Homo sapiens: one gene and its partner. The protein of the gene in region 1 interacts with the protein of each later gene in a pairwise test. Each region holds a gene or a part of one and is shown in the gene's direction. Other genes may lie near its edges.

Region 1 (7,641 bases):
AGATATGCTCCTTATCTTGGTTGTGGCAGTGGTTTCAGGAGTGTTTATGTATATCAGAACTTATCCAGTGGAATACTTTATGTGCAATTTCTTATGTGTCAGCTGTACTACAATAAAAATAAATGAAAACTGTCTTTACTGTCTGATCACTGCAGCTAACAAATCTAGGACTACTTGCTAAATTTACCCAATCTTAAGACCCACCAAGGACTTTTGTTTAAAGGGATGTGATCCAGGCCTGTCATGGTGGCTCATGCCTATAATTCCAGCACTTTGGGAGGCCACGGCTGGTGGATCACTTGAAACCAGGAGTTCGAGACCAGCCTGGCCAACATGGTAAAACCCCATTTCTGCTAAAAATGCAAATAAATAATTAATTAAATAAAATAATGTGATCCAGGCTTCAGAATTATTAAGATAGGACAGAGGAACTGGACTTTTTAGCAAGCACCCCAGATAATTCTTCTCCTTCTTATAAAACACTTAACCCAGGTTCATTTAATTGCACTTTGGTAATCTGCAGCCATGTCTTTATGTGAGAAAGGGATATTAGGTTTCTAATATGAACAGAAAGGCCTAGCCATGGACCACCTGATGATGCTTCCACTGTGGTCAGATAAGATAATTTACAATTGAATGGAATTATTTTCCTTTCAGTTTATAGTTTACTGAAGTGAGCCTTGCATTGTAAGTTCCTGAAGTAATCACTGGAAATGTCTTAATTCAGTAGCTCCATCTTTAGTTAATGCTGCACTAAAAGAAAAAAGGAATTTTACTTACATACTTTTTGACAAGTCACATTCATATATGTTTTAGTGGAAAAACTGTTTTACATCTTATATATAGAAGCTGTAAAATAACATGTTCTGGGGAGAGGAATAAGATGAATAGAATAACATTATAATTATCTAAATGTTCTTTAAATGGAGATAGCCACAATCTTTCGTAAAACTCTGGAAAGAACAGCATGACCTTCTTATTGCCCCCTTTCCACCGACGTCAAACAGAAGGAAATTATAGAATAAGTCTGTCTAAATTTTAAATGGTTCAGTTATCGGAAGACCTTAGAGAGCAAGTTTTCCACAAATCATCTCTGCGCCATTTTGTCTTGATTATTTTTTTAAGGGTTGGTTTGCCAACATGTAATTAATCACTTTTGTTAGTTTTTAAGGAAATGAAACTGCATTGTTCCCTTTGGCTTGACTGTTCTTTTTTATGGCGTCTTTTAGTGTTGTAGTTGTAATATGAAAACCTTAGGTAAATGTTGGGCAGTAATGTGAACAAAACAGTGGGAAGGGAGTAATTTTTAAAAGCTTATCTACATTGCTGCTGTAATACTTACATTCAACTCCAGATCTCAAATACCACCAACTTTAATATCAAAGTCCCTTAAAGTCAGAAGGTGTTATAATGTCAGTGGATGGGGTTATTCCCTGTGTACAAAGAGTCAGGATGCACTTGTCACCAATTCCCATGGTTTCTTCTTCCAAAATCTAGTTTGAATGGATCATTTCATCTCTGGAGGAAGGGATGGGAGCACCCTTCCGACCAGTTTCATTTCTTTGGGCTCTGTTCCATCTGTGCAGGGAACTACCTTCTCTATGGAAATTGGACACGATTTTAAAAATAAAGCATTGCATTTACTAATGACTGTCAGTATTAAGATTTCATGTAGATCTTGTTGCTTCTCAGAAAAAAGTTTCATATACAGTAAGGTTTTAAAGATAGGCAAATAACTAGTTGTGAGCAGGCACCATCCTTTAACTTTTATTAATTTGAAATCATTTTTCCATTTTTAAGCAGAATAGAATGTCCCAGTAGGTGTAAGGGAAATTTCAGTAGCCTCCAAGACTCTGTGGAGATTTTGAAACTATACACGCTTCTCCATCTGTCGCCTGCCCCCTCCTCCCAGAGCATAGACTTCAAGGCTGGACTTTGCTCCATGTTAATGATCACTGTTAATGAAAAAGATAATAGGTTCCAAAAGGCTGACCACCTGTTTTTGGTATTTAGGGTAATGCTGCTGTCAAAGTGAATGAGATATATTCCTTCCTCTGTGTTCTGAAAGTTTACGTAGGGTTGGGTGTGTAATGGGTTGAATTGTGTCCTGCGTCTCCACCAAAAAAAAAAAAAAAATGGTTGAAGCCCTAACCCCCAGTACCTCAGAATGTGACCTTATTTGGAAATAGGGTCATTGCAGATGTAACGTTAAGATGAGGTCATACTCAATGAGTATGAGCTCTAATCCACCCTAAGAAAAGAGACACACACATGAGGAGAAAATGTCACGTGAAGATAGAGGCAGGGACTGCAGGGCTGCAGCTGCAAACCAAGACACACCAGGGGCTTCCGGCAACCACAGGAAGCTGGGAATAGGCAAGGAAAGATTCCCCCTACAGGTTTCCGGGGAAGCACAGCCACGCTGACACATTGATTTGGACTTCTAGCTATCAGAGCAGTGGGACAATAAATTTCTGTTGTTTAAACTACTCGTTTGTGGTATGTTATTATGGTAGCCCTAGAAAACTAATACAGATTTATATTTTCTTTCAAGTTTGATAGAATTCACCAAACAGTGTTGAGTTTTCTTTGTGGAAAGGTTTTGAATTGTGAATTCAGTATCTTTAATAGATGTAGGGCTATATAGATGTTCTGTTTACTCCTGTGTCTGTTTTGGTAATTTGTATTTTAAGAAATTTGTTTATTTCATTTAAGTTGCTGAATTTATTGGCATAAAATTGGATTGTTCATAATATTTTTTGATGTCTTAAAGGATGGTGTTCCCTCCTTTATTTCTGATATTTTAAATTTTTTGTTGTTGTTCAGTCTAACACAGTGGTTCTTAACTGGGACAGTTTTGCTCTGGCTAAGGACATTTGTCTGTGCCAAGGGACATTTGGCTATGTCCGGAGGCATTTTGGGTTGTCACAGCTTGGAGGATGTGCTACTATCATCTAGTGGGTAGAGCCCAGGGAGAATGCTAAACATCCTACAATGCACAGGACAGCTTCTCACAGCAAAGAATCCTCCAGCCCACAATATCAGTAGTGCTGAGGTTAAAAAACCTACTCTAGGCTTTATAGTGTAAACCTTCTATTTTCCAAAAATATTATATCATTTCATGTTTAATATAGTGTTTCCATTCATCCCCTTCCAGTCTTCAAACTGGTTGTGGGCATACCTTTTACTTCTCTGTATATTATAAACCCCACGATATATTGTTAGCTGTTTTTGCTTTAAATAGTCTGTCAAGGAAATTTTAACATAAGAGAATATGTTCAGTTGTTACTAATATATTTTCAGCACTCTGTATTCTTTGTGTTGACTCAGATTTCCATGTGGTATATTTTCTTTCCACATGAAGAACTGCTTTCATACATCTTACAGGTCTGCTGGAAACATAGTCTCTCTGCTTTTATTTGTCTGAAAAACTCTGTATTTATCTTCATTGTTGAAGTATATTTTGGCTCTATATAGAACTTTCCATGACAGTTTTTAATTTTTTTTTCTTTCTTTGAGACAGAGTCTCGCTTTGTTGCCCAGGCTGGAGTGCAGTGGCGCGATCTCGGCTCACCGCAACCTCCGCCTCCCGGGTTTAAGCGATTCTCCTGCTTCAGCCTCCCGAGTAGCTGGGATTACAGGCATGCGCCACCATGCCCAGATAATTTTGTATTTTTAGTAGAGATGGGGTTTCTCTATGTTGGTCATGGCTGATCTTGAACTCCTGACCTCAGATAATCCTCCCAAAGTGCTGGGATTACAGGTGTGAGCCACCGTGCCTGGCCCTAAAATATTTTAAAATATGTCATTTCATTGTTTTCTTGTTTGCATAGATTCTGGGGGGAAATGTAGCTATTGTTCACTATTATAAGGCTTTTAAAAAAATCTGTGTATTTTACAAAGTATTTTGGGATTTTGTTGTTATTGAAAAATAATAACCTAAAATTTAATGCAACATGTTTAGATTTTACAAACAGACTTGTATTTGACTTGCGTTTGGTATTTCTCTTTTTTCCTTTTCTTTTTTTCACTTTTTTCTCTTTTACTCATTAAAATATGTATTTTGGGGCAAGCTATTTCTCTGAGCCTCAGTTTTCTCACCTGTAAAATTGAGCTACCAATGATTCTCACAGGTTTATTGAGGAAATTAAATGTATTGAAGGATGCAAAATGATTTGAATTTGTAGGTACTCATAAACCTGATACTACAGTACACAGGTATCCCCCTCCTCATCCAAGTTCAGTTGTTCTGACCTCAGGGTTCACACTTGGCGGCAGATCAGTGGATGTACCGGATCTGAGTCCTTCCCAGCCATGTGGCAGCAGCTCTGTGTAGAGACGTTGCCTGCCCCCCGCCCCCTGCACGCTCTCCAGGAGCCAAGTACAGCCAGGAATTGGCCAAAATGGAGAGCCCCGAACGGACCATGAATGGACACTGTTGCCACTGTTTACTATTCCTGTTCCTTTCTGTAGTTTACCTGCTGATTTTAAATAAACCTGATTGCTTACTCAAGCAAGGTTGGAAGTTTTTTTAATCCTTTAATTTAAAACTTTAAATACAGTAAAAATCCATGACTTCTTATATTTCCCCTCATTTGCGTATTTCACTTAGGATGCTCTTCCCTTTAATTAAACTAAAATTCTGTTCATTTTCCACTTCTCAATTATGCAGACTAGCTATAATATTTAAAGTTACAAATTCTCATATTAGAAGAATCTTGGACATAATTCATAATACGTAGCTTGTAATCAACAGTAAACTATTACTTCCAATGGATCTAATTACTTAGAATTTATAATACTAATATTGGATGCACTCTTTTTTATCTTAGCAAGGGAAACTAACTGTGTATGATAGACATTTTTTTGTAAATAACATTTCGCTTTTCCAAAGCATGAGTTGAGCTGTTATTTTTTGTCCTGTAGCTGGCTGTGGGCGCTAGCCCCCTGACTGTTGTTTTAAATGTCCCCTCATTGTGCTTCTGCTCCTTTACTAGTGGGCCTTTGGAGTGACGCTGTGGGAACTCATGACTCTGGGCCAGACTCCCTACGTGGACATTGACCCCTTCGAGATGGCCGCATACCTGAAAGATGGTTACCGAATAGCCCAGCCAATCAACTGTCCTGATGAATTGTGAGTTTTTTTGAGCTTGAAGGCATGAGTTTTATTCCATTTACTATATTGGAATAAAGGAAAAAGAGCAGGTTTCCATATTCACACAGAGCCTTCCCTTTTGAGAATAATGACTCTTTGGATTTAAATTAGACTCTTATAAAAAACCACAAAGTCAGGGAGATTCGTTCACTCTTTCATGCATTTGATATTAGAACGTCTTGCATTTTATTTTATAGTGCATAATCTAAGCACTATAAATTAGTCTGAGAGGACGTACTAAGAAAATTGAATGCTACGTCAGTTATTCTATATAAAGTGAGTATCTGACTTTTATAGTTATAAAGTAGTTATAAAGGACATAGTAGTTATAAAAAACCTCTCTCGTTGTCATTTTGCCTTGCCAGTTAGTATCAGCTAATACAGGGAAGATGATCTGGACTAGTAAGCCAAATAGTTGCTTTCTGTTTCCTGCTTCTATCACATAGCTTATCTTGCCATGTAATGAGAATGGGATAAACAGGAGGCTATGCAGGGTGATTGATCGTACAGATGAGTATATTCTCAGTTCCAGAACCTCCTGAAGGTTTCTGCACCATGACAAGGTGGCAGCTTTTGTACTGATTTTACTCTAGATCCAGGGTTCATAGAACTTAGATAAAACTTTCTCTTCCTCCAAGTTCTTTTCTTAATTTAACTACAGGAAAACACACATTCTTTTTTTACTGTGTTTTAGGTTTTTACATGAAATCTCTGTATTTGCTGAAATATTTTGATATGTTGTCATGAAGAATTGAAATTCACACATAATCCAAATAATTTCTTTTAGCTTCTTTCTAGAGCTGCCAACAGATAGTAAAATGGATCCGTTTTTAATATATCATCCTCTCCATACCCACCTTTAGACAGGCAACATAACTGGCATCAAACTGAGCAAAAGTTATGAATACTGTATCCTTACTAGCCCAAATTTTCATTTTTGTCACTCTGCAGATTTGCTGTGATGGCCTGTTGCTGGGCCTTAGATCCAGAGGAGAGGCCCAAGTTTCAGCAGCTGGTACAGTGCCTAACAGAGTTTCATGCAGCCCTGGGGGCCTACGTCTGACTCCTCTCCAATCCCACACCATCAGGAAGAAGGTGCCTGTCGGGGCTCACTTGAAGCCTGTCAGGGATGCTTTGTATCTAACACAACGCCAACAGAAGCACATTTGTCTTCCAGAACACCGTGCCTTAGAAATGCTTTAGAATCTGAACTTTTTAAGACAGACTTAATAATGTGGCATATTTTCTAGATATCACTTTTATTAGGTTGAACTGAAAGGGTTTTTGTAAATTTTTTGGCCAAAATTTTTTAAAACATACTTACTTTGGACTAGGGGTACATTCTTACAAAATAAATAAACAGTTTTTAAAATTGTTTAGACACAGATATTTGGAATTAGCTATCTTAGTGCCAACTGCTTTTTATTTTTTTACTTCATCAAGGTGATGTAAGTGACTCACCTTTAAAGTTTTTTTAGTGTTATTTTTTATCACTACTCTGGGAAATGGTTTGTCTTCAAGATGCAATACTTTTCTTAGTAAAGGAAAAACAGCATAAAAAGATACCTGGTCTGCCTTGTACAAGAAAAGGCAATATTAGAGGAAGAAAATTTAAAGAAAAGCTAGAGGAAAAAAAAATTTTTTTAAAAATACTTATTAGAAGCAAACTGCCCTTGCATGGAAAACTGTTTATTTTTTTCAGTGAAAAGGAATTCTGCTTTCGTGTTTTTGGGAAAGCAGGAACTGAGTTCATTACATCTTTAATTTGGCAGAAATTAGCCTTTCTGTGAACCAGATGTGGTTTGGGGCAGATCTGTAGTAAACAATGGTGATTTTATTTATTTTTACTCTCTGGAAAAGGAGATAATACAATTCCAGAAAGTGAACTCATATTTCTAAGGTTAAGATTCCCTTTTATTGCACCTAGAATAGTGCTATGCACAGAGCGGGTGCTTGAGTTGTTGTCGTTTTTTGTTTGTTTTTTAAATGTAAACTGGTAAATTTTGTGCTTATCTTCAAGGCTGGCTTAAGTATAAAATTGTTTTTTAAACACTTGAAAAATTAAAGGATTTGTTTTATATTATGACAGTATTGAAATTATTTTTCATAATGAATGATTGGTTATTGTGTCTGGTAAGTCTTTGAACATTCAACAGCCAGACATTTGTGTTTTATTTCATGATGTTCCAGTCAAGTTCCAAAGCCCTAACACAGTTAAGCTGGCTCAGACTCCAGGTTCTAGTAAAAAGTTGGAATTAATGTTATAAGGAAGTATTAAAACACTGAAACATTTCTCCAGAACCAGCAAGTAAGGGATATGTATGTATTTATGCTCAGTTTTAGTTGGCCTAAAGCAGAGTTGAATGGGCTTTCTAAATAGCTAGGCCTGCAGGTACCTGCCACTACTCCCATCTTCAGAGGTATATAAGGGAGAATGTGTAGCAGTTGGAGGCTTTTGCTGTTTTTAAAAAAGCCTTATGAATCAG
Region 2 (7,641 bases), on another chromosome or scaffold:
AATTTTGTCTTTTGTTGCCATTGCTTTTGGTGTTTTAGACATGAAGTCCTCCCACATTGCCAAGTCAATCCTAAGCCAAACGAACAAAGCTGGAGGCATCACGCTACCTGACTTCAAACTATACTACAAGGCTACAGTAACCAAAACAGCATGGTACTGGTACCAAAACAGAGATATAGACCAATGGAACAGAACACAGCCCTCAGAAATAATGCCGCATATCTACAACTATCTGATCTTTGACAAACCTGACAAAAACAAGCAATGGGGAAAGGATTCCCTATTTAATAAATGGTGCTGGGAAAACTGGCTAGCCATATGTAGAAAGCTGAAACTGGATCCCTTCCTTACACCTGATACAAAAATTAATTCAAGATGGATTAAAGACTTACATGTTAGACCTAAAACCGTAAAAACCCTAGAAGAAAACCTAGGCAATACCATTCAGGATATGTTATATTTTTATTTTAGTTCAGTTCAAAATATGTTCTAATTTGTCTTGTGACTTTCTCTTTGGCCCATGGATATTTAGAAATGTGTTTTTTTAATTTCCAAATTTTGGAAATATTCTTCTTTTCTTTCTGTTACTGATTCCTAGTTTAATTCCTTCATGGTCAAAGAGTATACCTTGTATAATTTCAGTTTTCAACATGTGTTATTTTATGGCCCAGTATATGATCTGTCTAGATGAATACCCCATAAGAACGTGAAAAGATTGTGTATTCTGGTGTTTTGGGTTGTGTGTTCTATAAACACCTATTAAATCCAGTTGGTTGATGGTGGTGTTCTTTTACAACCTTGCCTTTGCTTCTTTTCTTTCTCCTCAATCTACTTACTATTGAGAGGGAACAGTTAAAATCTTCAATGATAATTGTGAATTTTCCCATTTCTCCTTTCATTTTTGTCAGCTTTGCTCCATGAATTTTAAGCTCATTTTTGATGCATATATATTTAGGAATATTATGTATTCTTATGTACATTGCATCATATGTCCATCATTATGTAATGTCCCTCTTTATCCTTGGGAATTTCTTTGTGCTGAATTGATATTAATATAGTCACTCCAGGTTTCTTTTGATTAGGTTTTCATGATATGTTGCTTTTCACTCTTTCACTTTAAATGTGTCCATATCATTATATTTGAAGTGAGTTTCTTGCGCTTCTACACCTGCATCTGAGTCCAGGGTCAGGTATTGATAGGAGAGAGAGGGAAAAGAGCTATGATTGTTGGCTGCTTTAGAATTACGGCTTCACTAATAGATAACTTGGCTTCTCAGTCTTCACTTTTCCAAAATTTTTACTTGAGTATATTCATAAAGCTGAAGTGAAGGAGGAAATAGGTAGCATTTGAGGATAGAAAATACAAAACCAATTCCAGACATTAGGTCAGTGGTCCTCAAACATCAGAGTTTGAACATAAGAATTCTATTATAAATCCAGATTCCTAGGCTACATCTATAGAGATTATGCTTTGGTAGTTCTAGTCTGGGGTCTAAGAAACTGTATCATCATGTCCCGGGTAGCTCTGATACAGAGAACCTAAGGACAGCACTATGAAATTTTTTTTCTTACCTAATGATTGTGGTAGGACACCTAATATTACACTGCTATCTTAGAACTCATTACTCAGGAACAAGGCAGGACTAAGTTCATTCACACAGACAAGTGGATAAGGTTGGAAAATTTTCATTGTGTTTCAATTGCGCTTCAACTTAGATTTTGTCCCTTTCTCGGTAGGCCAATTTTAGCATGCATTTATTAACTGGACTTTTCTATTTAGATAAAGTGGCTCTGAAAAGACTTGGTGTGATTGATAATATATAAAAAGAAAGATTGAAGATATTTGTGTAATTTACTCAGTTTGTCAGTTATTTCTCCTCTTTTAAGATATCTACTTTCCCCAATCTTCTAAGCTGCTTTTTTCTTTTTATTTACTATTTATAGAGAATCCAGAGTAGAGGAATTGCTAGTTTTTACAGGCTTTGCTTTCCATCAAGCCTTGTGTGACCAACATATACGTCTTACATCTTCAGCAACTCTGTTTCACCCGTATCCCTTCAACTTTCATGTGGGGTTATAAAGATGGGTTATTTTCTTAGCCCAAGTGCTTTATTCCACGATATAATAGTATGAGAATCATCTTCTGTTACCAGTAGCTTTATCTTTTTGGACCACTTGAATTATATTTTATGTGGATCCTGAAATAGTAATGGAAACTAATCATCATGTCTTCAGTTCCGAGCATGCTAAATTGACCATAACTTTTTTAAAACAATCAAGCCACCCATAGTTTGCCAAAGATGATGATTGGACAATGATGACCCTTAAATAATTGTACATTTTATTTCTCCATATTAAATGAGTTCCTCGGATTTGGAAATGAAACTCTCATTAAGAACATATGTAGTATAATGGAATTCAGAACAGGATATCTCAATGTTGTTGTTCTTACCACTGTTTTATCAATGGAAAATGGTGCCAAAATGTTTTAGATGTATATGAACTTTCTGACCACAAGGTGTGTATTTATTATTTTACTAAAAATAATTTACTAAATAATATTGTAGTGTCCTAGAAGAGTTTCTACATTTCTGAAAGGAGAGTAATTTTCTTCTTTCCCTCTGAAAAACTATCTGATATCACTACAATGAAGTGATTCCTTTGGGGTTAAGAAATAAAATAATATACTACTTTCATCCTGGTTTACTTTTCTAATACCACTGATGTAGAGGTGATTCTGTGCTTTGGGAAAGGTATATTGTATGCATAAATGAACGTGGGTCTCTCACCTAAGAGAAAATAGAGAAATTTAAATGCCCAGTAGCATGAGTACTAGATCTGCCATGATAATTCTATTGAATTTGGGCATGTAAATAGCTGAAATTTGCAAGAAAAACAAAATAAAGTACAGACGCTTGCATGATTTGGGAAGTAAAAGATAAAAATAGTAGGAGATTGGAGAAGAATTCTTGTAAAAAGAGGTAAGTAATTTTCTAAGGACAGCACTTGTTACCACAAGCATTTCCAGTGAAAATCTGGGGTACCATTGCTAGGGACTATGTTATAAAACAGATCTCATGTTTGCTTTTCTAACTGGTATTTGACCTAGTAATATTCTTTTTGATTCATATGTATTATCTGTTTCCTCCTGTGGCCAGTAGCAAACAGGAGAAGCCATTATTCAATGCAATGAATATTTATCTAACAGAAGAAATAAAGATGAATGTATTTGTTACTAAATAAATTCAATTGCTCTAACAAAGATACTTAAAATAATAGCAGGTAAAACAATAGAATATTGTTTTTCTCTCTAAAAATCAGAGTGGGAACTGTGAGGTTGGTATGGTAGTTTCACTTTCATCAGGGATCAGAATATTTTGTCTTAGTGCTCTACCATCTTTGACACATGGTTTCTACCTCATGCTCCTACCAGACTCTCTGCATTTCAGCCAGCACAAAAGAGGAAATGTAGAAAGGAAGGCCATATCACATCTCTGCTAACATCTGTTTACTCACATTCCAATAGCTATAACTTGATCAAATGGCAATGCTTAGTTGCAGGGAAGACTGAGAGAAATGTAGTCTCTATCTAGATGGCCATATTACTTACACAAGTAAGGAGACGATGGATATTGTTTGGACTACTGAAAGTTGCTACCACAATAAGTACACTCAGATTTCTTACCTCAGAGAGCTTAAATACTCTGTAAGCGTGAAGAAAACTGTTCATTGTAATACAAGCAATAAGTATGAAATAAGAATTGTAGGAAATGCTTATATTTAAGGAAAGCTTAAATATGATAAAAATATTTATAATTTCAGCAGCAGATAGGACATCCAGGAATAGAAGCCCAAGTAGGTATTGAAACTATGGGTGTAGATAAAGGAGGAAATTTCTTAGTAAAAGTGGCATCAGAATATCTGAAAAATAGAACTTTTTCAAAGTACGCCCACTTTTATCCACCTAAAGTCTTTGAGAGGCCTTCATACCACCAGGTGTATACTATTTGTTGAGGATCATGAAGCAGACAAAGAAATATGGAGACTAACCTAAATCCTTCACAAGTCTTAAAGCCTCTCAAGAAAGGGTAATCCTCTTCATCAGATATATCTACCTCTCTTACTGAATAGGGTCTTTGATATTGTTTCTGCTTCTTCCCTCTTTCAGGGTGCTTTTCAGGAAACAATGATCATTTTTTGGCAATTAATCAGAAGAAGAGTGGGAAGCCGGTATTCATTTATAAGCATTCACAAGACATTGAGAAGAGCCTGGATATAGCCCCACAAAAAATCTACAGACATAGCTACCATTCCTCTTCCGAAGCTCAAGTAAGCAAACGCCACCAGATTGTCAATTCAGCATTTCCTAGACCCGCATATGACCCGTCTCTCAATCTGCTGGCCATGGATGGTCAAGATCTTGAAGTGGAAAATCTCCCAATCCCAGCAGCAAATGTAATTGTGGTGGTAAGTAGTATGTTAAACTGATGCTGAGGCTGATGTTGATTCTTTCCTGTCATTGATGCTTGAAAAAAGAAAAACACTGATTGTGAATAGTTATCAATGAATCCCAACGGGTATGTACCACAGCACTTATTCTGTGGTACTTCTAATTTCTTACTTGACTGTTGTCTGTTTTCTTCCTCTTACGAAATCAGAAAACTTGTCTGTATCCTCCGCTCATAGCAGAATGCATGGTACATGGTAGATGCTTAATAAATATTTGAATAAAAGATTACTTTAGGAAGGCCTTACAATTATAGTTGATTATATCTTGTACTGAGCCTCCTACCTTCTGTGAGAATCTGTTTTAAGCAGATAGGCCTTAGTCTCAGCCTGTGTAAATAAATAATACTTATTGAAGATCCTCTGGTCACTTGACTCAAATTACAATAAATAAGACAACTGAAAGGGGAGGTGTGGTAGAGGGAGAGTAGTTTTCTGTCACTGGAGCAAATAAAATGAGTTGGGAGTAATTGATAGATAACATTTTTGATATTACTGAATAATAACCATTCTTTATTAATAAAAGTGATACAATGATCCCATTGCTTATGTTCTTAAAGTTCCCTTGCTTGTATAACCCAGGTCAGAGGTTTCCAAATTGTGGAGGTTATCATAGTTTAAATACATACTGAGGTTGACACCCTATTTGAACTACAGTCACTCTCTGGTTTAACATCATTATAGAAGGATCCACATTGAAACTACAAATCAGTAGTTAAATGGTTGTTATTGCATCTCTGCTCCAAAATATAATCAAATGAGTTGATTTGTGTGGCCAAGATAATTCAATGAAACCATGTTTGCATTTTGGCAACTCCTCTATGCACCAAATGTAATTAAATCTAACAAGCTTCTTTTTTTTCTTTATTTTTTTAACCTACTACATATAGTATACTTTACTTAATATTGAGAATCAAAGTTCCATTCGTCAATGTTTTCAGCTAGCATACACTCAGTATTTATTATGATCTAGTTTCCCCTTGGGATATCTGGAAACAGAGACAAATGAAATACAGTCTCTTGTTTTGCTTGGAAAATGTCCAGAGGGAAATATCAATAATTCAATAAAAATCATAAGCTAAGAACACAAGATGAACTCTTGTTAAGAGAAAATATGTGGGTCACTTGGCATCCTGAAATACTTGAACAAGTTTTCTGCATTTACATGAGTAGCAGATGTTCTGAAGGTGAAAGTCATGTACTCTGTCTATTCAGTGAAGATAAATGATGTTAATGATGTCTCTGTATCTGGAGATGCTCCTGTTAATGCTAGGGCTCATGGGAGATATTTCCTTAGTGACCATCATATACCCATAGTCATCAACTCTTAAAGTCACTGTGAATTACAGTTCAAGAGGCTTGTTCTATCTTGTAATGTCATGTACTGTCTAGTTAATTTAATATCATGGACAATAAAAGGCACCAATGAGGAATTCTGGCAGGTCATTTCACTTTCAGCTTATTTGTGGTTTGGAGATTGATGAAGAAGCTGTGCTTTTCCTTTGGGGTGATGATTACATAGAGGCAATAGGCAATTTTGCTGCATTAGCTTTCCCTAGCCTCTGACCATGCTGTGGCTTTGGTAGCTGGCAACACCAATTGCCAGTCCTAATGTTTCCTGCAATCCACTTAGATTACTTATGTGCATGATGATTTAGCAGCAAAACTGGGGAGGCAGGGTTATTTTTTAAATAAATCAATAATGTTTAGCTTCCTCAAAAAGCAAAGGGGTGATGCAATTAAATGTCAGCTGATTTGAAGACCCATTCCATACAGAAAATGGATGTATGGATGGGGCATACAGGAAGCAAGGGATATATTCTGGGGCAGCATAATGACTTTAATGGAATAATTGATGTGTGTTTGTGCTTATCATATGTACATGAGTATAAAACATATACATCAATGCAGACCTTCTTGTTTGAGGGATATTGCAGTGGTACTAAGAATTATTTTGAGACTTAATTTATACTCAAATAGACCATGTTCTGACTATCAGTGTCTTGAACTGGAGAAATTATAGGCATTTTTTTTCCAGCCAGGGTAAAAAGCTACACTCAACCTCTAAACTTTATATGTAACTTCTAAGACTTCCTAGCTCAGAAGGAAGGATCAAGCATTTTTCCTCCAATACTTTTTTCTTTCTTGTTTCAACTATCATTGGCAATGAGTTTTAGAATGCTACCTTTAAAAAGGGCATGAAAGTTGTGTCTCTCCTCCCTTCCTGATTCCCAATTGCCACCGCAAAGCATTTCATAAGAGCATTTATCCACAAATGAATTTTTTCCCTCTTTCTTCTTTTTATTAGTAATCAGGAAAATTTATAGTTTATTTGTTACAAGGAGAGTACAACACAATTAGAATGTTTATCCCAAATAATGCTAACTATGTTCCGGAACTCAATTAAGAAGCTGTTATTAGGATTTCTGTGCAAGTACAATGTAGAGAAGATATTGAATGCCTCAAGGTCAGTACTATGGTAAGAGGAAAAAAATACCGCTTTAGATGAAAGTATGCTGTAAAATCCATAGCTCTTGTCACTGGATCCTCAGGATATTTGTCAAGACACAAGGCCACAACACCAGGAAGGAGGGAACCCAGAGGTGCAAGTGAAAATGGTGGAATGGTAGCAACTACAGGCCATTTCAGTTCAGCATAGGCTGCTGAGTGAAGAATGTTCTAGCCTGGACAGAAATCTGAGCAAACTGAGGATTAGTAAGGCTTGGGAATATAAGGGGTGGTTTTTGACATCAGTGAAACGGCATGGAAATGGGAAGATTATGATTTACTCTGTGAGATGGACTCATGGGTAAGAAAAATAAAGGAAAGGAGAAGATGGAGGAGAAGAAACAGGAAGAAGAGCAGCAGGAGAAGGAAAGGAGGCAAGGAAAGAAGGGAAAAAGAAGCGGGGGGAGAAGGGAGGAGAGGATACAGAGGCAGTTTTTAGGGAAGCAGGAAGCATTCTGTGAGCACATAGGAAGATGATGAGTTTCCAGGGGCTTGCGATCCTCTCCTTGAGATCCTAGAATCCTAAAATTTCTTGTCTTGCTCACCACTCACCCAGATCAACATATAGACAGACATTCTATTGTTTCTGTGACACAGAAAATTCTTTGCAAATACTTTTTGTCAGGT

What was found.
Region 2: the proteins of RYK (region 1) and PTPRR interact in a two-hybrid assay, tested with the Homo sapiens proteins (one study listed by BioGRID and IntAct).

The regions. Positions count from the first base shown.
Region 1 is NC_000003.12:134,156,730-134,164,370, reverse strand, and holds the end of RYK (tyrosine-protein kinase RYK isoform 2 precursor), read left to right. Parts: intron 1-4,997; coding exon 4,998-5,134; intron 5,135-6,106; coding exon 6,107-6,218; 3' UTR 6,219-7,238; downstream 7,239-7,641. UniProt on the Homo sapiens protein: May be a coreceptor along with FZD8 of Wnt proteins, such as WNT1, WNT3, WNT3A and WNT5A. Involved in neuron differentiation, axon guidance, corpus callosum establishment and neurite outgrowth.
Region 2 is NC_000012.12:70,889,505-70,897,145, reverse strand, and holds part of PTPRR (receptor-type tyrosine-protein phosphatase R isoform 1 precursor), read left to right. Parts: intron 1-4,168; coding exon 4,169-4,467; intron 4,468-7,641. UniProt on the Homo sapiens protein: Sequesters mitogen-activated protein kinases (MAPKs) such as MAPK1, MAPK3 and MAPK14 in the cytoplasm in an inactive form.